Homo sapiens: one gene and its partners. The protein of the gene in region 3 purifies or fractionates together with the protein of the main gene of each other region. This does not show direct contact. Each region holds a gene or a part of one and is shown on either strand. Other genes may lie near its edges.

Region 1 (6,639 bases), on a different chromosome or scaffold from region 3:
CCATGATCATGCCATTGTACTCTAGTCCACGTGACAGAGCAAGACCCTGTGTCTCAAAAAAAAAAAAAAAAAAAGAGAGAGAGACAGAGAGAAATACTCTGCCATTTGTTACTAAAAACCAGTAAGCAGGACAAGTGTTCTTAACCTTTTTGAGGTGTTGGGCCTTTTCGAGACTCTGATGGAAGCCGTGGAGGAATGTTCTCAGTGCGTCACTCAAAATGATGCACACAACTTCAACCCAATTTCAGAGATGTATAGACAGACAAGTTAAGAACCCTGGTTTAGTGATTCTGGTGACAGCTTCCTACCTTTTTACCCATCACTAACACCACTGCCCCAGCACCTAAGTGAGGACAACAGAAAATTCCCCACACCACAGCATGAAAATCCAGTTTGGGGTGACATTCTTGTCAAAAGGTTCCCCTTCATTTTCTTCTTTTTTTAATGTCCACCTCAGAGAAGAACCACTCGTCTTCTGGCCTTCCCCTTGTACCAGCCCTTGGGAAGTATTTTTTAGATAATTTTCTGATCACCAAAGCATAGAATCCCATAGGGCAGCGTATGAATAACCTATTCTTTGACTTAAGTTTTACTAATTTATTTTCCTATTTGCCTATTCCTTTATCATTTAATTGAGTTGGGAGTTTGGGAGTGGAGAGGGAGGAAAAATTTTCAAAATCCCCAAGGACAAACTACAGGTATGTGGACAGGTGTGAGGATTATCCTGTTAATGGAGGACTCTGAACATTGTCCACCTACATCACACCACACACACAATCAGCCTCTCCCCCCTTCCCTCTCTTGCTCTCTTTCTGTCTGTCTCTCTCTCACACACACACACACAGACACACACACACACACCCACACACTTCTATGTAGCTATCACTCTAATTTCCCAAGAGCCACATCTAAGACATTTAGCTGGAAGCTAAAATTTAGCTTAGAGAACAGTATCAGTTGTTCTTATACTACCACCCTGTTCCCAAATCCCCGACCCATTTCAGAACCACTAGTAAAATCATCAGCTATAGTGTCATGGACTTTTTGGAATCCTTAAGCCTCAAATCCAATGGCTCAAGATGGAGGGGCTGGAAGGGAATGTGGGGCAGAGGCCAGGTGAGGGGTAAAGCAGGAAAGGCTTGTGAGAGGTAGGGTGGGATAACATAGATTTCTTTTTCTTCCTTTGGGTTTTCCAACCCTCCCTCCACACCGAGGAACCTCATTCCACAAAAGCATAAGAGAGAGGCATGAGGTATTGATGACTTTATTATTCTGCAGGTACATGTCCAGGGGCCCAGCCTCTGGGCCCAGTAACTCAGCTACTCTTTGTGGCTTTCTTCATGGCTTTTTTTGTGGGCTGCCACGCCCATCTTTATCACCAGAATGAGGAACTCCTGGAAGTTAACTGCACCATCAGTGTTGATATCCAACTCTTTGAACCAGACGTCTGCACCCTTTTTCTGTCAAGATTGAGGAGGAAGAAGCCAGAGTTTAAAGATCTCAGAGAGAGCCGAGGCATAGCCATCTATGAAGGGTGGCAGGGAGGACCGCTGGCCCAGGGCAGCCCCAGGACCAGGCAGAGAGCCCCCGCCACACCCAGCCCCTCCTCACCCTGATATACTGAGGACACTCGGTCTCTAGCAATTTCTTCAGGTCATCCCTGTAGACGGCATGGAAATTCCCCTTTATCAGGGAGTACTTGTGGTAGACGTCGATGATAGAGTTCAAGGCTTTCTCCAGCTCGGTCAACATGATGCCCACGGACTTGCCCCACCTGAAAAACAGAACCTTCTGGGGAATCCCATGGCAGGGAATTTGCATCTGGCCAGGGCAGTACGCAGAGGATTCATGCCCCAAGCGATGGCCTTGTCCTGGCCTGCACTCTCCAAATAACCAAACCAGCAGATGGCTATGGCTCTGGTGGGAAGGGTGGGATGATAGGGATACACGTGTGGGAAGGGGAAGGGTCCATTCACACAGAGACATGTGCACACACACGGGGCCCGTAGACTTTCCTTACCACCCCACCCTCTGCTCAAGAAAAGTCCAGCCTAGGAGACAATGTGCCCTTACCCACTGGAAGGTGCTGGAGGATACTCTCCTTCCTTATCCCTGCCTCACTCCCCACCTCCAGGAGTATCTTTGCTCCAGACCTCCCTGAGCTTTCTCTCTCCTCTCTCAGGAAGGCTGCTCCACTTCCCTGACCCTCCCCAAGAGAAGCCCAAAGTGCGGGGCCAACCCAGACAGTCCCACTTACCAGGTCTTCTGAAAGACAGCTGACAAGAGACATGCAGGGCTGAGAGGCAGCTCCTTTTTATAGCGGTTAGGCTTGGCCAGCTGCCCACAGCTTCAGGCCATCAGAGACAGCTTCTCCCTGCCAGAGTTGCTACAGTCTCTGGTTTCTCAACCAGGTGAATGTGGCAATCACTGTGCAGAATGAAAATTTTGGGTGGGGAGGTAGGAGAAGCGGAAAGAGGAAGGCATTTGCTGGGCAATAGTGCCCAGAAGGAAAAAGCAGGTAGGGGGGCTCTTTTTCTGGGCTGCTGGCATCCACTTGCTTGATCCAGCCAGATTCCCACTCCCATGCCCTCTCCACTATTGCGATTGCTAATCCCCTGCATTGGTGGTCAGGCCATACATCCCTGAAACTGAATTGAAGTTGAATGCATCATTTTGAGTGCATGCACTCAGTGAGAACATTCCTCCATGGCTTCTGTCAGAGTTTCAAAGGGTCCAAAGACCGCAAAAGGGTTGAGAACACGTGTCCTGGCTGATGGCTTTTAGTCATGAGAACTATTGTTCTCATTACTAAAAACTAAAACTATCGTTGTTGTTCTTTTGGGTGGGTGCTTTGTGGGGAAATGTGTTGTTGCCAAGGGCTATATCCATTCCTACCCTGCTGCCCACACTCCTCCACAGCTTTCCTGTTCTGTGAAGCTGGGGATGGACCATGCCCTGGGAGATGGAGGCTGCTTGGGGTCCCTCGGCACTTCACAAGGGCCTGAGCCATTGCATAAACACAGCAGGGAGCCTTTCACCCTCTCTTGGTTAATTATTGTGTCTGGGACCCCAGGATCACTGGCTGAAGAGAGGAAGCTAACTCTGAGGTAGTGGAGGGGAAGAGTTCTTTGGAGAAGCCAGACGCGCTTCATGCCTAAGAGGAGAAGAGGAGGTGGCCAATTCCCCAGGATTTCAGGAGGAACAAATCCTCTCCCCACCACTAACAAAATGCTACTCAGATTAACTGGCTTCCAACCTTGAAGACTGTGGTGTGTTTCTGTTGTTACAAAGAAAATATTTGTAAAACAAATATCTGATAAGGGATTAATATCCAGAATATAAAAGAATCCCTACAACTCAACAACAAAAAACAAACAAACCAATCAAAAATTGGGGAAAAGACTCAAATAGACACTTCTCCGAAGAAGATATACAAATGGTCAATAAGCATATGAAAATTACTAATCTTTAGGAAAACATGAAGCAAAACGACAATGAGATACCACCTGACACCTACAAGGATGACTACTACTTCTTTTAAAACCCAGAAAACAAGTGTTGGTGAGGGCATAGAGAATTGGAAGCCTAATGCACTGTTAGTGGGAATGTAAAATAGTGCAGCTGTTATGGAAAACGGCAAGTTTGTTCCTCAAATAAATAAACACAGAATTACCATATGATCCATCATTCTGCTCCTGGGTATATATGCAAAAGAATTGAATGCAGGGATTCAAACAGATGTTTGTACATTCATGTTCATAGCAGCATTATTTACAAGAGCCAAAAGGTGGAAGCAACCCAAGTGTCCCTCAACACATGAATGGATGAAGAAAATGTTTTGTGGGGACATGTGTTGTTGCCGAGGGCTAAATCCATTCCTACCCTGCTGCCCACACTCCTCCACAGCTCTCCTGTTCTGTGAAGCTGGGGATCCACCGTGCCCTGGGAGATGGAGGCTGCTTGGGGTCCCTCTGCATTGCACAAGGGCATGAGCCATTGCATAAACATAGCAGGGAGTCTTTCACCCTCCAAAATAAATCCAGCTCTCTCTGGATGTGAGCCATTGGGGACCCAGCACAGTGCCCAGCACACACAATAACAGCAGCCACAATCACTGATCAGAGCAAATCATGACAAAATACTAGTTCACACTCACTGAGCTTTTCCCATGTCCGGGAACTATTCTAAGTGCTGCTTTATTTGCATTGATCATTTAATTCTCACACTAATCCAATGACGTATGTACTATTATAATGCCCATTGTACAGATGAGGAAACTAAGCCCCACAGAGAGACATAGTAATTCAGCGTATCAAATGATTGAGTGACTCATGATGTGATGTGACAGCATCCACTTCCTATTCCTGCCTGTAATGCCTTTTGTCCCTGTAATGTCCTCCTCACCATTCCTGATCCAGCTCAGGCATCATCTGCTCCAAGTCCATCCCTGATCCACCTGCCCTCACCCCATCAAGGCAGAATTAGTTCTTCTCTCCTCCATGCTACCCAAATCCTTACCCATCACAGCATTTGCCCTGCTATGTTATGATTCACTTGTTTATTGTCTGTCTTTTCTTTGGGACCAGGAGACCATTTAGAAAAGAAATCACATTTCTTTTCACAACCCTAGGGCCTGGCAGCTACTACATGTTCAATTAATACTTATTGAGGGATAAATGAATACAAAATTAAGTTTGACCCTTCCCTTATCCAAGGCAGAAATTCTCTTTATCACAATCAGCCATCTTAAATCATTTCTGGAAGAAGGCAGGGTATAAATTCATCAAACAAATGCAGTCTGACTTCCTTGACAAAAGATGAATCAAGCTCCATCTAGGAAAACAACGCCATTTCTGACATGACAAGTTTTCAACCAAGGATCCACCCTTGGTTAATACCTATTATTCACCACGTACTATCCTATGTGACCAGCATAACAGCACCTGCCTCAAAGCACCATATCATATTTTCAAAGTATTTTGCATCCACTGACTCATTTGATATTCCCAGCAACCTAGTGATGTGGACATTACAAGTATAATTATCCCTATTTGACAGATGGGGAAACTGAGGCACAGGGCATTACTTCAGGTCCTTCCCCTGGTCCAGTGAGGGAGTCCTGAGTGGTGACCTCCTTCCCACATCATGTACAGGCTGACCAGCAAGATCGTGAAATGTCGCCCCCTCCCCAGAAACTGCGCCCCTGGACAGCCTTGGGTGCTTTGGGGACAGCAGGAGCCAGGCTGAACTGACCTTGCAGCAAAAGGTATCAGGACTTGGGTAAGCACATCTGGGGAAAGGCAGAGGCTGTAAGCAGCCTAGCGGACATGGGGCAACCTAGAGGGAGCGGAACCTGGTCATGTTTACAGGAAAGGGCTCAGTCCCTGGGTGTGTCCCAACAGACCTGACAGGTCCATCCCTGAGGCCAAGGAAATGAGGACAGAGCAGGCAGAGCTGGTGAAGAAACCCCCAGAAGGGGGCAGGAGAGGGCAGGGAGGGCTCAGGCTGGGTGCCCCTGCTTCGTACTCAATGCCTGTGGAGCCCAGCACTTCTCAGGTGAGACAGGTATTTCTCCCCTGGGCCTGCAAGAAGAGTGGCCAAAGTAACTCAGGCGATGGTCTTCATGCCTCTAGACACAGCCAGGGGCCTGCAGGAAGGAGCACAGATCTAGGTCATCAATTCCAGCCCCACAGGCCCCAATTCTGCATTCCTTCCCCAAACACCTGCTGAGCGTTTATGGGGACACTGAGGTCCTGTCTCGGCGGAGAGTACAAAACAAGCACAGTGTGGCAGAAGATGCCCTTCCACAGGAAAGAATGCAAAGGGGAATGGGGTGCAGACATCTCCCAAGGAATGGAGGGCCCAGCTAGGTCCTGAAAGGCAAACTAAGCTGATGGCAAGTGTGGGAGGGACAGCAGGCCAGGCCCGGAGCAGCAGGGGCAAATTCTGCCCCAGAGCCTGACTGATGAGAAACAAGGTCTCCAGCTCAGCTCCAGGGACAATCCACCATGTTTGGCGCAAAGGACCAGGTGGGGAGGGAACCAGACCAAGTTTCTTAAGTGACCCTGCAGTCCTGTGCGCAGGTGGTATATCACCCCCCAACACTCTTTCAAAATCCATGATTTCTATCTCAGTAAGCTCAGGACACCGGTTCCCAGACCAACCCTCAGAAAAGACAACCCTCTAAAGTGGGCTCTGGCATTTCCTGAAGGCAGAGGAGACCCTCCCTAAGGGATTCTGCATTAGATCCCTAGAGTCCCAGGGGAGAGGAAAAGGAAAAAGAAACAGAGCAAGGGCAGGGACAGGTCTCAGGTGGGTGGGGTCAGGGATACCGGAGGACTCAGATCAGTGGTTCATGAATAGCCCTGGGTCAGGAGTAACCCTCACATCCATCATCATGTTGTAGAAAAAAACAGACCCAACCCTTCTCTCCCTCAGGAAGCCTTCCTGGGTTGACTGTCACCCAGGTTCTACTCATTGCTCTTCCCTTAACATGTGTCTGTGGTTCTGCCAGGCTGGATTGTTGGCTCAGCTCCTGTCAGTGTCTGACTCAGCATGTGCAAACCCAGCACACAATATTCCCTGCAGACTGGCTCCCACCCAGGCACCGAGGTCCCATGCCAATCGCCAGCACCTGAA
Region 2 (8,231 bases), on a different chromosome or scaffold from region 3:
TATGACCCACAACAGCCCCACGCACATGCACCGGGTTCGCAGAGATTACACAGCTAATACATGTGAGTAGGTTCTGGAAACCATGAAGCCCCGCACAGATGTAAGGACTTAGGACTAAAGAGGAGTCTGTGCTAGGAAATGACAGCTGGGTAGTACACCCAACACAGACCCTTTGCCACCAGGGAAGGAGCTGGGCATTGCTGGAGGAGCGGGGGAGGGCAGGTGGGAACACTGGTGGAGGGGTCAGGTCAGGCCTGGGGCCCCAAAGGCAAGGCAGCAGCATGGCCAATCTCCACGGTGTGGTCAAGGAAGTTTCTAGCCCCGGAGCTAGCCATTATACTGCCTGTGCTGAATAACCCTGTCATTAAGCCTGTGCTTAATAACCCTTGACAGCCATAGCTCCCAGCCCTGAGGGGAGGATGGGATCTCCACACCCAGGCTCAGCCCTCCCTTCCCTTCCCTTCCATTCCCTACCTCCTTCCATCCCCACAGGCCCCTTTCTGTGACAGTCAGGGTCCTTTGAGCTGCTGCGTCTTAATGACAGCTCTCCCAAGAACCCATTAAGCTGGGTATTCCTAGGGAGAGCTGGAGCAGGGACTCAGGCCCAGGCAGAGGTCAGAGCCCAAGCCCTGTCCCCGAAGGAAATGTGTCCCATGCTAACTACTCCATAGCTGAGGCCTGGAGGGAAGTCAGGGACCCTGGGACTGGTTATCCTGGCCTTGACTCATTACTGTTCCGGAGACCTAAACGCACCCTGAGCCACCAGACGTGGGTGTTAACACCTGAGGTCAACCCCCTGACGCTTCCGGCTGCTCTGGAGGAAGCTGGTCCTCCCTCCCACCTCCTGTTTTCCGTGCCAGCCTGGTACAGAGTCAAGGGGCTTGGCTGGGCTTGGCTGGGCTCAGAAACGTGGCAGTCAGGAGCCAGCCTGCGGGCAGCGGGGTGCTGGGAGCACTGCAGGGTCCACCCTGACTGGGGCACAGAATCCAGAAGCCCACTCGGCCCTGGCAGTGCCATCCTAGGCTCTGAGGTGGTAAACTGAGCTGGGCAGTGGGAAGGTCCTAAAGGGCAAGACAGGCAAGGAGGGGCTGCTTGCTTTGCCTGCTCTCCTGGATCCTTTGCCACCTGGGTGACAGGGCCTGGTGTCACTGTAACCACTCCCCCCCCACCAAAAGAAGCTCCAGCCAGACACCATTTAATCAGCCCCTTTCATTGGCCAGCCTCTAAATGGGGCTGGGGATTGGGAGGACCCAATACCTAGGTTTCACCCTGCAGGTGCTCAACACAGAGTGTGACAAGTATAACACCAGCAGTGGTTACAAGGTACCCCTGGAGCTGAAAAAGCAATAGATTCTCTCTAGGGAAGTCGGGAAATTGTCCTGGAAGAGAAACTATTTGCATTGGACTCTGAAGGATGGGCAGGCTCTCTCCAGGCAGGGAAAGCAGGAAGGAGCTCCAGACACAGGGGACTGCATGTGTGAACAGCAAGAAAGAGTGGTAGTATAGGGACAACAGGCTCTCGCTGTGGCTGGAGCAAAGACTCCGGCACTCCAGGTCATGGGAGCTGCACCTGCCGAGGTGGAAGCTGCATCCCCAGGCCCTGTCCATCTCCCAGGGCGCTTCCAGCCTGACCCTGGGGGTCAAGCTCTGTGCCTGGGTGCTTCCCTGGAGAAGGGGTTCAGATGTCAGGGCTCCTGCGTGACCCCAGGCCTCTCTCCTCCTCTCAGTCTTCCCTCAGTGCAGCTGAGAACCCAGCAGCCACCTCCCTAGCCCAGACCCATGCCAAAGCCCAAGAGATCTGAGGAGCTGAATGTAAGAAATGAGGAGAGACCAGCTCAAGGGGGTCATGGGTAGAGGGAGAGATGAGAAAAACAGACCCAAAACAGAGCTGGGGAACTGCCGACAAGCTTCCCAAAGCCCCAGAAACGCCCCAGGGCAGCAGGAGACAAATGCTTTCAGGCCTGAAAATCTCCACGGCCTCAGACTTCCCAGGTGCCTCTTCTGCCCTCAGTCTTCCTTCCTGCTCAGGTGAAAACATCAGCCTCAGTAAAACGCTTCAAGTTCCCAAGCAAGGATTCCCTGGGACAGTGAACTCCTCCAAACCTAAAGTGCAATCATCTACCACATTTTCTTTTAAACCTGTTGCCACCAGAATGGGAGCTTCTTGAGGACAGGGTCTGTGTCTTTTCTGCTTTTAGCCGCAAACCTAGCACAGGGCATGGCATCCATGGCATGGACTAGGCACTTAGTAAATGTGAATGAATGAATGAGTGGATTGATGGATGACAGGTAAATAATCAAAGACAGAATCCCCTATAACCAATTTCTGATTTATCTGACACTGAAAACAAGGCTCACCCGAAGTCCAATTGGAAAACATACCAGATCTATCTGAGGGGTTACTAAAGTGTTTTTATCCCAGAGGGGGATGGGCATGAGGGAGGCACAGGTCTGAGCCTGCCCGGAAACCCTGGTGATAGGGAAGGGGAAGAGTGGGGCAGAGCCAATGTGGCAATCCCCCTGTGACACGTCTAACGCCACCTCCCAGCCTGCCACTCTGACTAACCAGCACGTCGGCAGCTGAGAAATGTGTAAACAAGATGGAAAACCGCAACAGTCCTCCCCTGCCCGTGGCCCCCAGAGCACCCTCCAGCTTCCTCGCATAATCCACGTGCAACCAGAAACTCTCGAAGGGTAGCAGATGAAAGGAACACTTGAGGAAGAGGGTGAGAGACATGATGGCCCCTGTCCAGGCGTGCGCACCTGTCCAGGGGTGGCAGTCGCGTCTCCTGTCACAAAATGTCCTGCACATCAGTCTGGCTGGGCGTCGCCCGCTGGTGCGGTTGAGCCAACCAATGCTTTCAGCATATCCTGCTGTCTCAGTTTCTTCCTCTAAATCTGTATGCATTCATTCATTCATTCATTCAGCATGTGTTCCCTGAGCATCTACTATGTGCTAGGTACTGGCAAGATACCATGGAAGATTCAGAGAATATGTAAAATCTAGGCCTTCAGTTTTGTGCACTCCATAGATGGAACAGGAGCAGGGGAGACTGCTTTCCCACACTCCAGACAAAGCCTGACACTCACTCACTCACTGATGTCCACAAGAAGGGGCTAAACATAGAGCCAAGGTCAGCCCCCTCACCTTCATCCCATCTCCACCCTGACATCACTCACGATCACATCTCCAGTCTCCAGAGAGGAGGGTCTTGCCAGGCTGCTGGGAGAACCTGTCCGGACACGTAGGAGTCACTGGTGGTCTTAAAGAGAATAATAGCTACAGCGGCAGTATCACATCTCTATCCAAATGCAACAAGGGCCCCATGTTGTGCTTTGAGAAGCACTTTCACATCCAAAATCTCCCTTCAGTCTAATACAACTCTCTGAGACATTGTAATCCTCATTCTACAGATGAAGAAATTGAGGCTCAGCCGGGTGTGGTGGCTCATGCCTGTAATCCCAGCACTTTGGGAGGCCTAGGTGGGCGGATCACCTGAGGTCAGAAGTTCAAGACCAGCCTGGCCAACATGGTGAAACCCCATCTCTACTAAAGATATAAACATTAGCCGAGCGCAGTAGCTCACGCCTGTAATCCCAGCGACTCGGGAAGCTGAGGCATGAGAATCGCTTGAACCCAGGAGGCAGAGGTTGCAGTAAGCCGAGATCACACCACTGCACTCCAGCCTGGGCAATAGAGTGAGACTCGGTCTCAAAAAAAAAGAAAGAAAGAAAGAAATTGAGGCTCAAAGAGGTTCATGACTTGAAAAGGGTCATTCAGCCAAGGGCAAAGGGAAAACCAGTAGCTATAATTAACTTAGACTTTCAAGAAGACTAAACTAAAGTTTCATACCCAATGCTGCTCAGGGAAAAAAAAACCCAAATTACCAGGAGACCATTAACGATAGAAAATTGATTTAAAGAGAGAATATTATAAGTGGATCAGGCCTAGGACTAATCCTATCTGTGGGAGGAGACAAGAGAAATTTCAGGCTGAGAGTGAGCTCTTCAGAATCACAGACCCTAAGGAAAAACCTTAGAGGTCTTCTCGGCGAGTGGGTTCCCCAAGCGTACTTTGACCTCAGAGCCTTTAGCTCCACTGAAATCAAATGCAGAATCCTCGTATGGGACACAGAGAGAAAAACAGAGCTGCAGTGTTTGAAAGGACTGTCCCCCACCCCCGCCACTTCTGCCCTGCCTCCCTCTCCTCTGCTGCGCCGCTGCGGGGCTCGGTCGAATCCCCCAGGGGTGCTCAGAGCCCTTATCTGACCCTGGCCCTCGTCTGCCACAGAAACCTTCACAATCCAGCTTTTGCTCACACATCTGTTTCTAGAAGCTACGGTTGCTGAAAACAATCTTTCCTTTGCCAGGAGAAAAGACTTTCTGTAACTTCCCCCGTTCCTCCTAGAACTGTCTTTTGCCTTTCTCAGACGGCCACACACACTTGAAGCTTTCATGCTTCCACTGGTCCTTGCTTCTCTGAACTGCGTGTTCCACCCTCTCTTCCGAGAGAGTTCACACAGGTCACACGACATCACCTCCGGTCCCAACTGCCCTGGTCACTGTCCCCAGATGCGCTTAGTCCACAGAGTCCCCTGCTGAAGCCAAGCCCCGGGGCCCATGAAATCATAAAAGTCGCTCTTTGCTCAGTTCCTATTACATACATGACAGGCCCTCTATGAAGCTCCTTCCCATTAACAATAAATAATTTTTGACTATGAGTATCTACTATGTCATGAACTTCCCAAGTTCTATTTTAATATTGTTATTAATAACTAATAAAAATAATAGAATATACTCCATGGGCAAAAGAGCTTTACCTCTGGTTCACTGCTAGGTCTCCAGGGCCCAGAAAGTTGCCTTACTAAATGAGTAAACTATTATTGTTGTTGTTATTATTATTACAGTTAACAATTACTGTACTCTTGGCTGGGTGCAGTGGCTCACACCTGTAATCCCGCTTTGGGAGGCCGAAAAGGGCAGATCACATGAGGTCAGGAGTTCAAGACCAGCCTGGCCAACATGGTGAAAGTACAAAAAATTAGCTGGGCGGTGGTGGCAGACGCCTGTAATCCCAGCTACTCTGGAGGCTGAGCCAGGAGAATCGCTTTTACCTGGGAGGTGGTGGTTGCAGTGAGCCGAGACAGCGCCACTGCACTCCAGCCTGGGCAACAGAGCGAGACTCCATCTCAAAAACAAAACAAAAAAACAATTATCGTACTCTTACCGTGCACCAGGCAATGTACTATATGCTATGCATATCTGGGGCTCCTTAGGAGGGAGACTTACTGCATCTCTCTTTCTCTCTCTCCCTCTTTTTCACACACACATGAAACTGAGTTTCTTGGTGGTTCAATAACTTGCTAAAGCCTCAGGCCAATGAGCAAACAGGATTCAGACCTAGGCTGCAGGATTCCACGGCCTGTGCTCTGTGCACTGTAAAACACAACCTCTCCTAGCAAATGTAATTTCAGCAAGGAAAAACTTCATGAAGCACTCGACGAGTTATGTGAGTGGGCAGGAAAGCAGTAAAGGAACTTCAGGTTATGCAACTGCAAAGTCAGAGAGGCAGAGAAGACACTGAAGCACTATTAAAGCACTATTTATAGGATCCTGAGCTCAGAGTTCACAGGAAACAGATCTAGGAGTCACTGAAACCTGTGCCAGGAGATTGGCTGCAGCAGCCACACCAGCCCAGCAAGGCTGGTTATCACTGGGGCCTCCAGAACAAACGAGAATCCTCAACCCTGCCCCTGTACAGAACCACAGCACAGACCCTCCTTGAACATGTGTGGAGTTCTGCTCTCCATGCCTGTAGGGTAATTGGGGCAGAGAGCACTAATTTTCACTTACTAAACTCCTCTATGTTTCAAGCACCAAGCCAGGCACATCACATGTGTCATCAATAATTCTCACCAACAACCCTGTGAATTAAGTCATATTCTCCCCATTTTACAGATGAGAAAACTGAGACTCAGAAAAATTTATTAACTTGCTCAAGACTTCATGGCTGGGAAGAGGCAGAGCTGGATTCAGGCCAGTGTCCCTGCCTCAGAGTTCAGGAGGAGCAGGATCAAGGGACAACCCCCTTCTGATCAAGGCAGCTGAGACCCCTCAAACTGCAAAGACCAACCTAGGGGACTATGAGCAAGTCTGTAAAATCATGCAAAGACCAGATGGGGCTCCTGGGGGCTTGCAAAGGTGCTGAAAATGTGCACGGTGCTGAGCAGGTGGCGCACCTTACAGAATCTTTCTCCCCATCATCTTGTGAAGTCGCTTTTATTGTACCCACATTCCAAAGAAGGAAACTGGGTCCAGGAGCTGTTTAGTGACTTGCTCAAAAGTTGTTCTACAGATGGAGGAGTCAGATCTTCTTCTTCTTTTTTTTTTTTTTTGAGACAGAGTCTAACACTGTTGCCCTGGCTGGAGTACAGTGGCAGGATCTTGGCTCACTGCAACCTCCGCCTCCCAGGTTCAAGCGATTCTCCTGCCTCAGCCTCCCGAGTAGCTGGGATTACAGGCACCTGCCACCACGCCCAGCTAATTTTTTGTATTTTTAGTAGAGATGGGGTTTCACTATGTTGGCCAGGCTGGTCTCAAACTCCTGGCTGGAGTCAGTCCCAATCAGTTCCTTTTCCCTCCCTGCCATTTCCCTCCCTCTTAAAGTTTAAAGGACAACTCAGGACAAGCAAAAGTGAGTACGATTCTTGAAAGATGGTATAAACTCTGTCTTTGAACCTTTTTAAATTAACGTCAGACTGCTCCATGGATGGCAGGTCCTCAGTTCAGGTAAATTGCAAGGTTGAGAGAACCCCTCTAAGCTTTAAAATCCATCAGCCCTTCCCAATGGCAAACCCATGAGGGTCCCTGCCAGGCTGAAAGGCTGAACTGTGTGGCGGGACCCCTTCTGGCCCTCTCGAGTCCCCTCCAGCCATTGTCCAGGCATTGTCCTCAGGTGTGCAAAGATGGTGGCACCTTCCTTCCTATCAGACCCTTCCAGGAGGGGAAGGTGGGCTCAGATGGACCCACCACTCTGGAACAGAGGGAAAGCTGAGCAAAGTAGAGCTGTTGAGAGTTCAGAAAGGTGGGAGAGAATGGGCTGCTTCCCCTAGGACAAAGAGAAGGATCGCAGAGGGATTCCTAAGCACTGCAGTAAACAGCAGCATCACCTGGAAGCAGGGCCCTCCAGTGGGAACCAGGTCTGTCTTCAGTTTAATTTAGCCCAAGGGGCATGTACAAATACCTCACTCCTGCCCTTCACATTGTCTCTGGGGAAAAAGCATAAGCGCTGTGCCTCAGTTTCTCCATTTGTGAAATAGGAATAGTTACATCTTCCCTGCCTCCCCAGCCCTATCTGAACCTAAGAGCTATGCCCGAACACAAAAGCTGATTCTTAAATGATGGGAGCTGAACAGCAGGCTGGCAGGGGATAATGGCAGGCTGCCTGACTCCTCCCTTCTGCCCCAGGCCCTGCCCTGGAGCCATTATGTGCTGAGATGGGGGATGAGGTGCTCGGCTCAAATTGCCAATAGGTCAGCACCTATGTGGTTTAGAACAAGGCAAAATGGTTTCTAATGTAGCAGCCAAGGCTGAGGTTAGACCCAAAGGAAAAAGTGCTGCTCTAATAATGACTCAACGCAAGGCAGTGTTTGTGAGGATGCTCCCTGAATTTCTGCGTGAGAGCTTAGATGCCCAGCGGCATATGGCCTGGGCTGGTGGCCGACCTGCCTAGAGACAGAGTAACAGGTGCGATCCCAGGATACTTGGAAGTCGGCATGATCAGTCATCTCTGAGGACCTCCCATGCACTCTGGGCTGCTGCATCACCACCAGGCTCATCTCAGGAAACTCACTCCCTCCTCTCCTGCCCCATGATCTTCCAGCCCTCAGTGACCCTCTCCTTACCTGTCATGGCTGAGACATCCAAGAGAGAGAGCCCTGTTGCCAGCGCAGCAAAGGCATCAAACTGCCTATTCCAGCTGCAAGTGGAGAGGACACAGCTGCTTGCCGTTGGTTTTGGGGAGGGATGCAGGTTCTGGGGTCAGAGAGCAGAGTGAGGCTCCCTCAGAGGAGCACTGTGGCCGGGCCCCACTCTGCAAGCTGACGGCAAGCACCTCTGGGTCTCTTGGCTTACCCGAAGAACTTTCCCCACCCCCTCCCTTGGGTTTTCCCCACTGCTTATTACTGGCCTCAGCAACCTAACTGCCACCTGCCCAAGCCTCAAAGGACCTG
Region 3 (8,231 bases):
CATGGAAACAACTGGGCTTGTGTTTACTCTCTAAACTATAAGGAAAGATCTTATACTGAGAATAAGGAGAGCCCAAAAGATGCAAGAGCTTAAGAAATGGTGAGAGTTTGGAATCACTGCAGTGGGCATGGCGAAAAATTGGACTGGAGACATGCAAACAGACTTGCTGGTTAAGAGAATCAGGTGCTATGAATTGGGCAAAATGGGAAAGAACCAAAACAAGAATGAAAGTTCACTCCAGGTCATCCTTATCCTAATGCACAATGTCCATTCTCATTGAACGTCTTCACTGTCAGTAGGCAGGTTTGGGCATTAAATGGTTACATAATTATGAACTCAGTGGTAAATTCCTTGTAATGTTTATATAATTCATCAGGTCTATGGGCCCTTATTAACAGAAAATGCCAGCATTTAATTATTTTTATTTCAAAACCGGTTTTATTGAATTCTGCAAGGAATAACTTCAGGGAAAAGAAAACACATTGAAACAGATACTCTCCTCTCTTTTCAATAAAGCCAACAGTCTAAAGATGTTAAAGAAATAAATCACATATAATGATCATCTAACTCTGAAAATTAAAACCCATTTAGGGATTATGAAGGAACCTTGATCCTGGATACCAGTCTAAGTTATTCGTCTAATATCTTTAATAATGTTTGGAAAGTAATTAATCAACTTATGACATAGATTCAAGGGCTGTCACCTTTCATTGTCATTAATGAAACTGTCTGGGATTTTATCTGCACTTTTCTGGTGATTTAAAGAACAATTTTTTTTTGGTAAGTTCTTTGAAGACCAAAAGAATGTTTAAAATCACTGGGCCTTGACGTACAGATTTCAATGAACAATAATCCAAGTATGTGTTAGTGAGACCGAAATAAAATTTAGAAATATCTTAATTTTGACAAGACAGAAAGGGAATTTTTGAAAAGTCCAAAATGCATATTCATTTATGTTAGGAGGAAGTTTTTTTTTTTGTCAACAATCTCTGCTTTGGTTACTTCTTTACATAATACAAATTACAAATATCATACTATTTGATACTCATTAAAAACAACAATAGCTAAGGTAATATTTTAAGCCCAAAGGTTTGCCTAGGTCCTAAGTGATCATATTGGCTTGCTGTCTTTGTATTAACCAGATGGTTGTGAGACCACAGTCTCACTTTGGACAGTGTAGCCATTGGCTGGAGCCATATGAATTCTGCCTGAAGTGAGGGCAGAATCAGATGAAAGTGGCTCACCTAAGACCCTCAGAGGAGCCAAAAGACAAGTAGTGAAGGCAGGCCTTGATAGAAGCTTTCCTTGAATCTTTATATCACTGTCTAAATTCGTATTTAGAATAGAAAAATACAATTCCTACATCCATGCTAGTATGAACTTTGTATAGTCAAGGACCAAAGAAATGGTTTCAAGGTAGTATCCTCAAGGAAAGCTAATATATATCCCCAGAGACAATATCCCAGTGGAAAAGGATTACAGATAACAGGTTTTAGGGCCATAACTTTTGGTCCCAACAGGAATTTATAGATTATAATGAGCTAGATATGCTAGAATATTTCAGTCATGAAAATGGTGTAAAACCTTTATAAATTTGCCTGAGTTTTCTTTTTATATTTTGATTTCCTCAGAGAAAATGGAATTTCATTTAGAGTGCCTGGGAGTAGATAACAGAGTGCTTAGAACATGCCTCTGACACTCAGAATAAAAGCTTTCTCTGCTTCTGTGACATATTCCTGCTATTCTTCCTGGTAACTGAGGGGAGGACAGACTAAGAGGCCCAATTTAGGACTGGATAGATGATAGTCTATCTTTCTCCAGAATCAAACCACATGTAACACAAGTTGGCAGAAATTTAGACTTTGTAAAGCAATGTCTAAATTTTCCCACCATTTCCCAAGGTGGGAAAATGGTAAAGGTACCATTTTCCCATGAGCTTTACTTTATTCCATACCCTCCCTCCCCCACTTTTTCTGAGACAGGGTCTCTCTTTGTCACCCATGCTGGAGTGCAGTGGTATGATCTCGGCTCACTACAGCCTTGGCCTCCCAGGCTCAGGTGATCCTCCCACCTCAGCCTCCTGAGTAGCTGGGACTGCAAGTGTGCGCCACCATGTCCAGCTACTTTTTGTAATTTTTTTAAGAGGGGGGTTTTGCTATGTTGCCCAGGCTGGTCTCAAACTCCTGAGCTCAAGCCATCCACCCACCTTGGCCTCCTAAAGTGCTGGGATTACAAGCGTGAGCCACTGTGCCTGGCCTATACACCATTTTGACCTGCCTCTTTCCTACTTAGAATTCAGGCAGCCTGATTCTTAATGGGACACCCTCTTTATGACTTAGGGTGCACTCAAGCCCATGACCCTTCAGCATATCCCGCCCACCTTTCCCCTTCCTTTGCTCATTGATCCAATATCCCATCTAAACCTCCAGGCCTTCTCCTTTATTATCTATTTTCTATATATGGCATAAGAATTGTCATAAAAAATCTTTCTTAAATTGAACTACATTTTCCCAACTGTTCAAATACTCAGGCATTCATTCATTTTTCAAGTTGTGAGACCTTTACATTGGAATTTTAAAAGTCATGTAAATACGAATGTGTACAAAAACACTGATATATGATTTATTACTGATGGTTTGGTTCCACCAATGAAATAAAAATTAGGCATGTCTAAACAAAGCTGTATAAATAAGTCAGTGCTGATACAGTGCCATCTACAATTAAATGTCAAAACAAGCTGTAATGATAATGTATTTAGTAAATCTTCAGGTTAACCTAAGAGAATCTCTATTTTAAGACCCTATTAACACAATTTTCCTTTTACCCCCCCGCCCCCTCAAGATATAAGAAATTGCCAATTCCATCACCCCAAATGTGATACTAAAACAGCATGCTTTTCACCAGGAAAGGTTTTCTGAGGATAAAAATGTGATGAGCCATTAGAAATTCACAATATGGTATCAAGAAAGATCTCAATGCCTATATTTTAGCATGATAGTTTATTTCTTTAAGAGAGAAGGAGCTGCTGTCTCCAAAGCAGCCATTCTTTAATCATGTCATTTGAAATGCACTTAAAGCTATGTCAAATTCATATAGGAAGTCTGGTTACCAGAAAATACACATTCACAAACAGGAAATCTAACTACAGCAAGAAGGTGTTTTCCCCCGACACAATAGAGTTCAAAGATGTGTCATCCATGTAATTTGGAGCAATACCCAACACCACTCTTATTGCTGAGTATTCCTCTCTCCCCTCTCCTATATTATGACAACTCGTGATTATAGCATTACGTTTTCTAAGCCTGTTTGGACTTGCTGCTCTTGCTTATACATACAAGCGACCTGCCCTTTTTCTGTGCATAGCTTTCAATCAGTAAGCATGTCAAGGTGGGAGGAAGGATGACAGGAATAGTAAAAGGGGGAAAATCAATTTTCAGAAAGCATATGGCAACAACTGAATATTTAATCAAATTAGTCTAGAAATTCCTTCCTATTTTCAGCACTCTTTGCAAGGCAGTTGCTTCATGGTGCAAAATGAATTTCAATAAATGTCATATATTTAGTTAGATGGCTTATTTTAAAAATTTGTCGAACAAGGTCACTGACTTAGAATAGATCTTATTCCAAGGTATGACAGATGGATATCAATATTGAATAGAAGAACTGACATTAGCTAGAAGTTTCTGGGCAGAAGAAAGAGTCATTCAACACTCTACAAAATACTTACTGAGTACCTACTATGTGCCAGAATAAAATGATGAATATTTGGGCTTTGTATTTATATTACAAAACAGAGAGGAAATGTGTCAAAATAATTTCCTTGGGGTTAGTAAGGATTACAACTGAGTATTACTGGTAAACAAGGACTTTAAAAAGTGCTTAAAATTTTCACATTGCATCATTCAAACATCCATACTGTCATGGTTGCAAGATTTTAGACCTAATCAGATTTTTGAGGATGCTGTTTATTGACGCTTAGCAAAAACCAACTTCCTATTTTTTTCTGGAACAAAAAGGCCTTACACAATTTTAGAGATCTCTTGGACATCAAAGAGCTTAGAGGGACATACAGTTTGTGAGTAATGATTTAAGATTTAGTGAATCAAAGACACATGGATTAAATTTCCCTTAAAAGACCCCTAGGTTTAAAATTTAATAGCTAAAATGCTGGTCTAGATACACTCTGGTCCCAATGCTGGTCCCAAGCAAAGCCAAAACCTATTTTTAAAGCTAGGTTGAATTGTCTTATGGACCCAAACCTTGGCTGGGTTTTCCTTTCCCACATGATTAGGCCTCAAAGGAGGCAACCTATCTCTAATAAATTTACCACTTCTCTTTTTCTCTGACTTGCAAAGACCATATTATTTCAAAGGTCTCAGCTTTGAATGTCTTTCTTTACATTTTTAATAAAATATTAAAAATTAGAAATCTTCCACGGTCTTATCAAACAGTTATTCCCCAAGTCATTCTTTTTTAAAAAAAAACATACATTTTCAAATTGGACCTGAGAGTCTAGGTGCTGCCTCAGAATTCCAACTATTAAGGAGTAGGAGACCATTTCAAAACAGGAATAGACCACTGATCTTAATATGTATACTGTATGTGCACTGTTTCATGATATATTATTATATTTGCATTTAAAATAGTAGGAAGAAATACAGTACATAATCTCCCTTTCTAACACAGTGGCCTTCTGGAGGGCTGCTAGCTTGGGCATTTCACTGAGATTTTAGGATTAAAGGAAACAAATTAGTGCACAACCTGTGAGCTTTTATTCCTTTGGAAAAATAGATTTTAACACTGATCTGATTGCTTTTAAAGGGCACTGGAAACCAGGAGGGCAGTGCATGTTTTGAATTTCAATGGCAGGGTAATAACAACGGGTGAAGTTCAGTCATTTCCAGAGACAGAGACAGAGAGAGAGAGAGACAGAGAGAGAGAGAGAGAAAGACAATATTCCAAAGGGGGAGTTTATCCTGAATCAGAGAACTTGGAAATGAAATTGATGCATAAAGCCATGATGGATTCAGGTTTCAGAAAACTACTACTTCAGTTTAAGAATGAAATAACTAGATTACCCTTTAGTTTAGAAACGTACATAGTTTGATGTAAAGTATGTGGGCTGATGAGTTTAGAAAAATAACCACGTGCCAATAGGAACTGACATAAAATATTGGTTTTAAAAAATTTGTTTAGTTAATTTTCTGAGAATTTTAGAAAATAAAATATTTTGTAGAAGCAGTCCTGGGGCTCTCGGGCCATGCATGCTGCTGCAATTGGGACCATCAGGAGCCCAATCTGGCTTGCAGACTTTCTGCCACTGTAAGCTGTATGGTGTTTTAAAGACACTGAGTCAACATTTTAAAATTGGGAGAGTCCTAGCTTCTCTTGAAAATCTGAAAGATACTACCACATGGGCCCATGCCATACACTGAGCCTCACAACAGCTCTAATCACGCCAAGCAGTGACTGCCCCTCTGCTTTTCCTAAGCAGTTTGTCAATCCCTAGTGAAATGGTTAGTTTTCCTCATTTAAGTTACCTGTTTGCAAATCTTGATACAGGATATAAATAGGGGAATAAGGGAAAAGGAAGAAAAGAGGAAGAAAATCCAATGCAGTGACTTAATACTGGAAAGGAAAAGGAAGGAGAGCGAGGGGGAAAGAAAGAAGTGCATAGCAGACAGAAGCTGCACACCATCAGCAACTGCCTCTTGCTGTCTTTAGATTTATACTATGGAAGGGATCAGTGAAAAAAGCCATGGGTATCCTTCTCAACAAATCCCACTGTGACAGGCTCACAGTGTGGAAAATAAGAAGGAAAATTGTCTGAATGGAGCAATATCTCTGATAGAGGATGGAGTATGGGATGGGACCAGGCGGATGCAAAACAAAACAAAACAAAACAAAACAAAAAAACAAAAAAAAAAACAAAACAACACTCTGGGTCTTCTTCTTCCATGTCTCATAAACCAAGAGATGTGGGCCACTCCTGTATCTTCATCTTTAACATGGTAGCTAATGATGGCAGGCACTGTCCAGGTATTTCCCTACAAAAACAGGGGCACTATTCAGGTATCTCCCTCCAAAATCAGGGAGTCTATGGACAGTTGTGCAAGCTGTGAACTGCACAATTTCAGGAAAAACAAGATGAGAATAGCACTCCTGAGAAGTGCTCCTCATATGCGCCTGGCTCACTTCCTTATCTCCTTCAGATTCTAGCCCAAAGCCCACCTTTGAAGACAAGCCTTCCCTGACCTCACTATTGAGTTTTTCAATCACCATCCCACTCTCTCTTATCCTTGACAGTCACTATTCTCTTTTCCATTTTATTCTACCTTGAAGCTATTATCATCACCTGACATACAACACATTTCAGTTATGTATTTCTTTATTGTTTGCCAACTCAATAGAACAGAGTGTCATGAGGTTAGAGGTTTTCATCTGTTTTATACTCTGTGGAAATGCCAGATTTTAGAACTATGCCTCGTAGGTTGTCAAAAAATTGTCCTGAATGAATGACTAAATCCTCATTCACATTCTTGGAGTACAGGAACCTGGCTTTCACGATAACTTGTGATTCTCTAAGCACATTTCATAATTGCTATCCTTAATTATATTAGGAGAGATACATTTTCAAATTCTATTGCCCATTATATAATCGCCTGTGGGCCCTATAGCTACATAATTTATTATAGAAATTAAAATCAATGGGAGTAACCTACATAAACATACTTGCACACATTTATGCAATCACAGAGAGAAATATGTGTACCTGGGTATGTGATTACAAAGTTAACTTTTTTATTTCACTGAGCTCATACCTCCTGCTACAAATGCCACACGTGATTTTTTCTCTCAATTAAGTTTTACAGCTTATAAAAGCACTTTTTTCATTTTGTCCCATGAAAAGCAAAGTAGTCAGATTTTACTGGATGTTTTTATTGAAACAAATCCCAAGCGGAATATACTAACCTGTTTAACACAGCTGAAAAGATATCTGAGAATGGGCTTTCTGATAGAAGGATAGATTACAAAATTATTCACGGCTCTTAATCTGATAACAGGAGCAGAATGCCCCACACATATGAATGAAACCTTTTCTCGGTATGTCTCACTACAAAGAAAAGAAAAAAAGAAAAGAAAAGAAATTAAAAAAAAAAAAGAGAGAGAGAACTGGAGAAAGAGAAGGTGACAAAAACTCCAGGGACTAGATATGTTATATTCATCATTTACCACTATCTTAAGCATCCCTAATGATGCCTCCATGGAAAATGTTTCCAATAGTTGATGGCTGAGGAAAGGTGGTATGGTGCTATTGAAATAGCATGGAGCTAGTCTCAAGCTCAGTTTCCTTGTCTATAACATAAGAATGTTAAGATGTTATCAGACTTGCCTATCTTGTAAGGTCGTTTTGGTATCAGAAAGGTGATGTATGCAGAAACAGCTTGAAAATGTTAAGGTTTTTAAGTTCCAAACTTTGATTTTTAAAAAAAAATTCTATTATTTCATAGCAAATAGGATGATTTTGAAAGCGTTTCTCATGTGATGTCCTCTTAATAATTATGAATTTGTGTTCATTTAATATGTGATATTTGTCTGTGTATCTAGATCATAAACTTCTCAAGGGCAGATTCCATTTCTTTCTTTTAAAGAAAATGCTGTAGTACCTAGCACATATGATACTCTACCTATAGGTCCTAGCTATTTTTGGTCAGGCAAATGTGGATCTAGCAGCAACTCAGTGTCAGTTGAGAACACATCATCAAAGTGATTCTGAACTAACATTAGTCAGTGTATCTATCATTTATTACTGAGAAGTGACTATTTATTTTGCACTGAGCAAAACCCATGAAGAAACTCTGCCCTAAGGGCTTGGTGTCAAAAACACTAGTTTCAGCATACACCAGCCAGGAAAAGAAGGCTCACTTCCGGACACTTGAGTTTCTACATACATTTTCTCCCCTTAAGAGGGCACAATGAGGAAATTGAGTATCCTATGAATAAACACAGCAGACCAAGGAAATCTTAGGGATTTAGACCACGGAAAAGAAAGCGTAGATGGCTCTGGCGAGAATCACTAAGCCTAATGCCTAAAGAAGAAACGAGCAAACTGGGCTGGAGAAATGGGGGCACGGAAGGCCTTGAAAGCAGCTCTGACCAAACCAAGGGAAAGGGTTGAGGAGGAAGAGGACAGAGAAATGGGAGGTAATCTGAATGTGTGAGGAACTGTG
Region 4 (8,388 bases), on a different chromosome or scaffold from region 3:
ATCAGGCCTAGAAGCAACTTCCACATCAGACGCACTGTTTACAAAAAAAAAAAAAAAAAAAAAAAAGGTCCCATAAAGCCACAGGTCCTCTGCTATCTCAAACCCACAGCCTGAAGTTGTTTGAACTAGCTGCAGTAAATCCAGTTCATGGGTTTATAAACTAGCTCAAAGCATTTTCTAGACACCGTGGGCTTAGAGCGTGTAAACTTGGTGAAACTACAAGATATTTCATTATATCATATACAGACACTTTCTCCCCTAAAGTCTTGCTGAATCTTAGCCAGGAATACAAACCATATAAATACTCTTATGGAAATTCCAGAATAAGACTCACGGAGACTAATGATTTAAATTCAGAAGTCTGAAGTCTAGAAAAAAAGAACACATTTGCTTGATTTGTCCTTAATCAGAAATAAGAAAACTTCACAAATATTTTTCAAAGGATAGCCATTTTGCACTGCATACTGTGTTGCTACATACTAACCAGAAATCATGCTGCTCATATCTTAAAATCGAATCAGTCAACACCATAATCAGTATACTAAAGTCTACTGATGCTCAAAATACCCACTTTGGTATTTCTCGATCATCAAATGTGTGAGTAAAAGAGAAGGACTTCAATTTTGAAGGTATTTATGCCATGTGAAATGTCACTCCTAGGCAACAGAAAGCCTAAAGAAATAACCAGTATGTTTTGCTCCAAAAATTAAAGGGCAAGGCAAAGTGGATCTTGTGACCATAGGAAAGTGCAAATAAGAGGACACCCTGCCCTCTCTGGGAAGTTACTTCTGTGGAACTAAGTGCTTTCCCCACAATGCCACTGACACATGGCATTGGGAGTCACTCTTCCAACAGGTGAACACTTAAGAAGTTAATCTGATTTTGCCCACATGATTCTATTTAAAAAAAAAAAAAAAAACTACCGTATGTAAGGGAAAAATCACAATACCCCAGACTAAATAAGAGACTACCTAAGGACAATACTGGGCTCTATCTCCCAGTACTTCACAAAAGCTCTGCCTCCACCCTACGACCACTGATTTTCACTAACTCAGTAAATTCCACAGAAGAAGTAGATATTGAAAACCTAACTGTAACTAAAGGGTTCCTGGTTGTCTTCAGAACTCTGTAGTACTTGTTCATGGAGCAGTGTCTCGGGCCAAGTTAAAGATTCGTGCCCCATTTTGAGAGGTACAGGATCTTTACATTTAAAAGGAATTAACTTTTCTTCCCTTCACGGTAGTCAGAACACAGGCCACATTTTCTTCGATCAAGCCACAGGTGCTGGTTACAACTTGTGACACCAGTTTTCTCTTTTTAAAACAGCCATAGTCATGCCTAAGGTTACTGCTGTGCCTTTCCTATGTTCTAGGAAAAATGTCCAATTATTCAACCGAAATGCGGACTATTTAAGCTAGGCCTTTTCTGGAAAGGTACTAATGGTTCTACAGAGATGCTAATTACCCATAACTGAACGGGATTTGACTCATGCACCAGATTTGTTAGAAGTAAAAGAAGACTATTCTATTCTACCATGTTTACACAGAAGTCTAATGCCTTTTTTTTCCTGTCAAATCTCCTGTAAGAAGTGTCCCACTAAGTCCTAATAAGCCCACATCCTGACAGCACAGAAAAGAACCTCTTTCGGGTGAAACAAACAGCTTAAATCAGCCAAGCCCCTGGCACCCTCTCCTGAAGCAGCACTTCTCCAAAACTCATTTGCACCATTTATGGAGGAGAGAGTCTTGAGGGTGGGCCCCACCCCACTGGATCATCAAGCCCAATGGGGCCCCAGGGAACACACAGGAAGGGTCTGGAACACAGTTCCGTAAAATGCCAAACAGGCGTAAAAGGACAAACTCCCAGCACTCACAGGTCGCCAGGAACTGTCAAAGCCCTCTAACTCAGGGGTCCTCGGGGGAAGACTGCCTTCTGCCCCGCACAGAGAGGCAAGTCAGGCCACCACGGTCTTCGGGGATCAGGAGACGGCTACACACACTATCAACTAATAAATAATGTAAACGAAAGACTGGACCCAACAGTCACCTTCATTCATTACCCACTGGAAGACCAAGGAGCTCAGACACCAAATAGTTGGATTACAGGAGAGGAAAAGGAAACGCACCCACATACCCCCACAGACTTCTTCACACTCTTCTCCAGACGTTTCCCACCCACCCACCCGCAAACACACTCAGCTCCAGACTCCCACTCACTCACCCCCAGATGGCCCGCACGACGCGTGCTGGCTAACCCCCAAATCTCTACGACCCACGCTCGCTCGTCTCCAGACCCCACGAGGCACGCTCTTCTTCTCCAGGCTCTCTCGCACGCCTACTCCCCCGGACCTCCACGCAGAATCTCCCTTCCGCCACTCCAACCTGACAGTCTTCCAACACGCACAAGCACGCACAACTCCACACACACAACCCAGTCCGCACCCCCTCCCTGAGTACGAACCCCCGCCGCTCCATCCCCAAGTGACAGAGCCCCGGGGCGCAGAGAGGGCGGAAAGGGCGGCACTCACAGGCTCCGCGTCCAGGAGGGCAGGTCCCCGGGCAACGCAGCCAGCCCGCGCCCACCGCAGTCCAGCGAGTCCCCAGCGCAAGTGCAGGCGGCCGCGCAGGGCGCCCGCGGGCCGGCCGCGGCGGTCACCGGCTCCAGCCGAAGCAAAAGCAGCCAGAGAAGGAGAAGGCAAGGCGAGCGGCGCGGGGCCCCGAGCCCTCCCCGGACCGGCCGCGCCATCTTGTCTGGAGCGCGCTGCGAACTCCGGGCGCGGGGACTGTGAGGACCCGAACGGCCGCAGACGCGGGCGGGCCCGCGGGGCGCTCCGCTCGGCTCTAGACTCCGCACCGGGGCATGGCCCCCGCCCCAAGTTCTCTCTGCGGCCGCGGCTCCGGCACTCAGCGTGCCCCCGGTGCCCGGGCCGCTCCGGAGCACCCGGCGGGGGCCGCAAACCCCGCGCCCATCCGGGCCGGCCGGCCCGCCCGCGCTAGCTGCGAACTCCGCCGATTCGGGCAAGGTGTACCCAGCCTGCGCTCTTCGTCCGCCCGGGGCACGCCGAGTGCCGCTACCGACACCGGCCGAGGGCAGTGCTGCCGCTGCGCCTGGAAGACAGGCGTTCAGCCCCGCAGCCCGAGCTCGGTGCCGGCAGGCATCTTCCTCTGGGCTCGGAGCGCAAAGCCGTAGACCTCGGGCTGGACGGCGCGGCCGGCCCCGCGCTGGGAGGCCCCAGTGCGCCTCGCTGTCCCCACGCCGCGGCCAGAGAGCGCGCGCGCGCGCGCAGCCTCGGGTTCCGCACGGCTCCTCCGCGCAGCAAGAGTCCCGCCGACCTCGCAGCCGAACAATCAGCCGCTTGCTGTTCGCCTCCCCGCGGCCCAGCCCCGGCCGGTCCCCCAAGCCCCGCCCCCGGCCGCTCGCCCGCACACACCCCCTAGGCTCCGCGCTCCGCGGCCGCCTGCTGGCCCACGTTGGATGCTTTGCAACAGCGCCCCGCCACGCCTCCCCGCCTGCTGCTCATTGGCTGCCGGAGTCCACCGTGGCCAGCCTCGAGGGCCATTGGAGCGCTCGCTGTGATCCCGCCCCTCCCGCTTCACCGGCTACCCCGCCCCCACACTCTTTTCCCACCCAAGGTGTGAAGGGCGGGAGACTGGGAGGAGAAAGGGAGGGACGGCCCCCGCCTCTTAAAGGAGACACGCAGGTTGTTGTTGGAGAACGGGAACGCGGGCTGGGGAAAGGAGGCGTGAAGATACGCCCTCTGCGTCAAGAAGGGGAGAGAAAGTTAAGAGGGTAAAACGCCCCCGTTTTGGGGCTGTCTGGCCCCAAGGCTTTTTACGTCCTCCTCAGGCTGCAAGCAGGACTGCAGATTAGAAGCAAACCCGCGTCCGTTTTCCAGGTTCCTTCCAAAAGCGAAGACACAGGTTTAAAACTTAACACATTTCTTCCTGACTGGGACATCCTTGGTTATTTCATTAGGCGTGGTCCCCTTCCTCCTCGAGCAGCCTGGAGCATCTGCTCCTGACTTGTTCTTCACGTCCTAAATCCAGCAATATGTCCTTGATTACTAAAATGAATGTGTGCTGCAGAAACCTAGTCTCAAAGGTGCACCCTCGGCCAGGAGTGGTGGCTCACGCCTGTAATCCCAGCAGTTTGGCAGGCCAAGGCGGGCGGATCACCTGAGGTCAGGAATTCGAGACCAGCCTGGCCAACATGGTAAAACCCCGTCTGTACTAAAAATGAAAAATAAAAAAATTAGCCAGGTGTGGTGGTGCACACCTGTAATACCAGCTACGGGAGGCTGGGACAGGAGAGCTGCTTGAACCCCGGAGGCGGAGGCTGCAATGAGCAGAGACTTGTCACTGAATTGTCACTGAATTCCAGCCTGGGTGACAGAGCGAAACTCCGTCTCAAAAAAAAAAAAAAGTGCACTCTCCTTCCCAGCTAGTGAGTTGAAGGGTACTTCTAGAAATGCTGCAGCCTTTGATAAAGGGGTTGCTTTGTTGTTGTCATTGGGTTTTTGTTTTAATCAGAGTCTTTTTAAGATAATTTTCAAGAAGCCATTGTGTATTCGTAAGAGACAGAGTTAAAGGAGAAATAATAGTTAACAAAGCTTCTAACTTTTGCTCTTAAAGATCAGACCATAGTAGTAGTGTGTTACGATAGTACGTGGTAACATTAAGCAGACATACACACATTGAGAAAAAAAGAAAAAGATTACCACTGTAACATATAGCTGCCCTCTGGGCGTTTTGGTTTGCTAGTGTCTCATATCCCTTCCCAAGAGTATGCAAATTACTAACATAACTGCGCACATTGTCAGGAAGATTAAGCAGGTCAAGTCTGTTGAAAAACATTTGCTCCAGAACATTAAATCTGAGTTGTGTTTTATGGAAGTGGGGTGGGGTGGGAGGTAAAGAGGAGAAGTTGAACCTTAGGGAAAAAAGGCAAAAAAAAAAAAAAAATTAAAGGGTTTATTCCATTTTCGACACAATCTAAGAGGTTTGCTTTAATTGAGATGCACTAAATGTGTTAAACTTTCCCTCAGCCATAAGATCACCTCTTTTCTTTAGCCAAAATGTGATCTTCCTATCCCTTCCTCCCCTTTTTCCTTCTTCCCCTTCTGAATTCATTGCGCCTCATTTTTTTCTTGTTTAATTTTGCATGATCTCAGCAGTGATGCCCAAAGCAGTGCTCAAATATGTGGGTAAATCAATTCAAATCTAATTCCCAAGAAATATTATCAGAAAAATGCTGCACCTGACCCATCCCACCCAGAGCTTTAACCAGCTTTTATGTTTCATATGTAATCCAAATAAACATACACCTTCCATCTGGACGAGAAGAAATATGTCCTTTTGTTCTATCCCTTTTGGTAAATATAATAATAATAAGCAGTGGGAATGGAATTAAAAAGACCCTAAATTTATGAAGTCCTCTCAGTCAGTGTTTAAGTTTTACACAAAGAACACAAAACAGTAATTTGATGCAGAATACCCACAGCCGTTTCCTGAAATGAAACTGTCAGATCCTCCCTGTCCCCACCCCACAATAAAACAGCATATGCAGCAAAAAATGAATTGAACTGATTGAACTACTTGAGATGCTGACCTAAAATTATCTTTCAGGTTTGTCTCATTTCTAGTACTATAAAAGTGGGTAATTCTTGTAAAATGTTTTTTCAAATGTGTATGGGTGTACTTGTGAGATGCCTTTTTGGAATCTTAGTTTTCTGGAGGATAGAATTTAAGAATCTGCAAGGTGAGGGAGTGCCCACAAATCTAAAGCATCCCTTGTGGTCTGGTTACCATGCAGCCAGAGAAAAGGATTCCAAAGCCGGGGCACACTTGGGGGGACAGGGCGCCTAAGCCTTGGCAGTTCCTCTCGTCTACAGCAAAGCATGAAGTCATGTCTGCTCCCCATACCATGTATGGAAGTTTGCCCACATACTAGCAACCTGCTTGTGATTGCAATGAGAGTGTGAACTTGGAGAGCAGTGATATCCAGCTCAGGGGGGAATTCATCTGCAGCCACCACCTAAGATGAAGGAGATCTCAACAACAACAACAGCAAATGTCTAAGGGAATCTATGTCTCTGCTCATAAAAGTGCAAGTCTTGGTCCATTCAGCACAGAGCAACAGTTGATTTGGGTGCTGTAGGTCCTTATTTTCCTCACACTGCAACTTTGATCTTTCTAAATGCTTATTCCTTAAATGAGTCATCCGGGGATTTTAGATTTTCCAGTTCATTTTCATCTACCCCAGGGATAGCATGGAATCAAACCCCAGTGAGAATCTCTGCAGGTCTCTCTTGACTCCAGAAGCCCTAGCAGTTAATCATCCTAAGTTAATCATGCTTGAGAGAGGAACCCAAAATCTAAATAGCCTGAAATCTATTGGGGAGAGAAGCAAATAACAAAATAACAAGAAAGAAGGTTAACCATAGGAATTTTTTTTTTTAACACAACTTCCTGGGGACTGAATTTGTGCCAGTTTGCTATAGTTCTAGGTGGTGGTCTTTAGTGGTTTTAAAGAATGCTGAGATTCAGAGGGGCTTTCTTAATGTTAGGTGAGATTTTACACTGTGTTCAATACATTAAAAAAGCACCAGGTCACCATTCAGGAGAGCTGGGTTCCAGCCAGGCCTTGTTATGGGTGAAACCTTTGACCAGTCATTTTCTGTCTTGGAGCCTCAGTTTTCTCAAATAGAAAACAAGGGGCTGGGCACGGTGGCTCACGCCTGTGATCCCAGCACTTTGGGAGGCCGAGGTGGGGGGATCACCTGAGATCAGGAGTTCAAGACCAGCCTGGCCAACATGGTGAAACCTCATCTCTACTAAAAATACAAAAATTAGCCGGGTATGGTGGCACACACCTATAGTCCCAGCTACTTGGGAGGCTAAGGCAGGAGAATCGCTTGAACCCGGGAGGCGGAGGTTGCAGTGAGTCGAGATCGCACCATTGCACTCCAGCCTGGGTGACAAGAGCAAAACTCCATCTCAAAAAAAATATATATATAAAAGAAAAATAGAAAACAAGGATAATGGTACTTGACCTGGGTGCTGAGTGAGTAAAGAAGGATCATTTTGATAAAGGACCAAAGGGGCATTATAAACTGTTTACATCTCATTGTTTTCAAGGTGTTATTGATTTGTTAACTCTGAAAAACTGAGAGCCCATATGTATAATGTAGATGGAAAATCTTAGCAGGTTGTTTCAGCAGGAAAGTTTCTTGTCCAGGAATGTGACAAAGGGTTAATAATTAGCTATGAAACCCCTGAAGACTTGCAGGGTGATGACAGCCCTGCTTTGAGCCTGTTTTCTATCTCTCTTCCAAGGAAAATAAAACTGTGTACTCATTAACTCCTTCGTCGCAATAATCTTGTCAAGGAGATGGATGGGTGGAGAAGGTAAGAGAGGAGGCTAATGAGTCTGGGAATAGAATATAAAAAGAGAAAGATTTTGAGATCTCCCCATCCCCCATTCCAACATTTGCCTTTGGTGGAGGTAGTTTTCTTGTGCAATCTCTGGCTATTGGAATATTGGTTAATGCCCAGACAGTGCCAAGCTGCAGCTGCTGCAGTTCCACAGCAAGAATGGTTGTTGCCTGCAGCTCAGCTGTGACCCTTCACAGGATCTGCCCTCCTCCACAGAGCACCATCGACAGGGGCCAAAAACCTTTAGAGTCCACTTTCTAACACAAACTAGAACCTTGACACTTGTCCTTGCCTTGTGAATGTGAAATGTTTACTGGTTCACTGAAAGGATGAAAAAAAATATGTCAAAGGTATGAGCATTTCATAATTCTGAGATTGAGATTCTGGAGTAATGGTCATTGTAGGAGGCAGTCCCTTACCTCTGACGGTGATGATGATGGGATGGACTAATTACATCATCACCAGAGACCGCACCTCTCACTCCCAATCTGCTGCCTTTGCAAATGTCACTCCGAGAAGTACATGAGGGCGAGTGCAGGGAGGATTCAAAGTTTATGCCTCACTGCCAACCACTCAGAACTAACACTGCAATGTATATAAAGAACAGCACATTGATCATAACATAATAATAATCTTATGAAGTCATATACCTTACATTTTTCAAAGCACTGTCACATCATAACAACAGCTATCATTTACGGAGCACTTTTTATATGTCTTTCATGTTGTTGAGTGCTTTATGTACTTTTTTCAGTGAGGTAGGAGCTAAGAAAAACGTTTAAGGCCACACAAGCTAATAAGTGACAGGGCCAAGATTCCAAACCAGTTCTGTGGACACCAAAGATCTATTTTGGGCTGGGCACGGTGGCTCAATTCCTGTAATCCCAGCACTTTGAAAGGCCAAGATGGGTGGATCACTTGAAGTCAGGAGTTCGAGACAAGCCTGACCAACATG

What was found.
Region 1: the proteins of MET (region 3) and S100A8 purify together in Homo sapiens (affinity purification with mass spectrometry; 2 studies listed by BioGRID and IntAct, with this or other methods). This does not show direct contact.
Region 2: the proteins of MET (region 3) and TMPRSS4 purify together in Homo sapiens (affinity purification with mass spectrometry; 2 studies listed by BioGRID). This does not show direct contact.
Region 4: the proteins of MET (region 3) and LRIG1 purify together in Homo sapiens (affinity purification with western blotting; 2 studies listed by BioGRID and IntAct, with this or other methods). This does not show direct contact.

Annotation. Positions count from the first base shown.
Region 1 is NC_000001.11:153,388,784-153,395,422, forward strand, and holds S100A8 (protein S100-A8), read right to left. Parts: upstream 2,258-6,639; intron 2,194-2,257; exon of another isoform or gene 2,074-2,193; intron 1,792-2,073; coding exon of another isoform or gene 1,753-1,791; coding exon 1,612-1,752; intron 1,461-1,611; coding exon 1,320-1,460; 3' UTR 1,249-1,319; downstream 1-1,248. UniProt on the Homo sapiens protein: S100A8 is a calcium- and zinc-binding protein which plays a prominent role in the regulation of inflammatory processes and immune response. It can induce neutrophil chemotaxis and adhesion.
Region 2 is NC_000011.10:118,078,847-118,087,077, forward strand, and holds part of TMPRSS4 (transmembrane protease serine 4), read left to right. Parts: intron 1-7,904; coding exon of another isoform or gene 7,905-7,911; exon of another isoform or gene 7,912-8,117; intron 8,118-8,231. UniProt on the Homo sapiens protein: Plasma membrane-anchored serine protease that directly induces processing of pro-uPA/PLAU into the active form through proteolytic activity.
Region 3 is NC_000007.14:116,674,686-116,682,916, reverse strand, and holds part of MET (hepatocyte growth factor receptor isoform b preproprotein), read right to left. Parts: intron 1-8,231. UniProt on the Homo sapiens protein: Receptor tyrosine kinase that transduces signals from the extracellular matrix into the cytoplasm by binding to hepatocyte growth factor/HGF ligand. Regulates many physiological processes including proliferation, scattering, morphogenesis and survival.
Region 4 is NC_000003.12:66,497,663-66,506,050, forward strand, and holds the start of LRIG1 (leucine-rich repeats and immunoglobulin-like domains protein 1 isoform 1 precursor), read right to left. Parts: upstream 3,361-8,388; 5' UTR 2,746-3,360; coding exon 2,528-2,745; intron 2,393-2,527; exon of another isoform or gene 2,221-2,392; intron 1-2,220. UniProt on the Homo sapiens protein: Acts as a feedback negative regulator of signaling by receptor tyrosine kinases, through a mechanism that involves enhancement of receptor ubiquitination and accelerated intracellular degradation.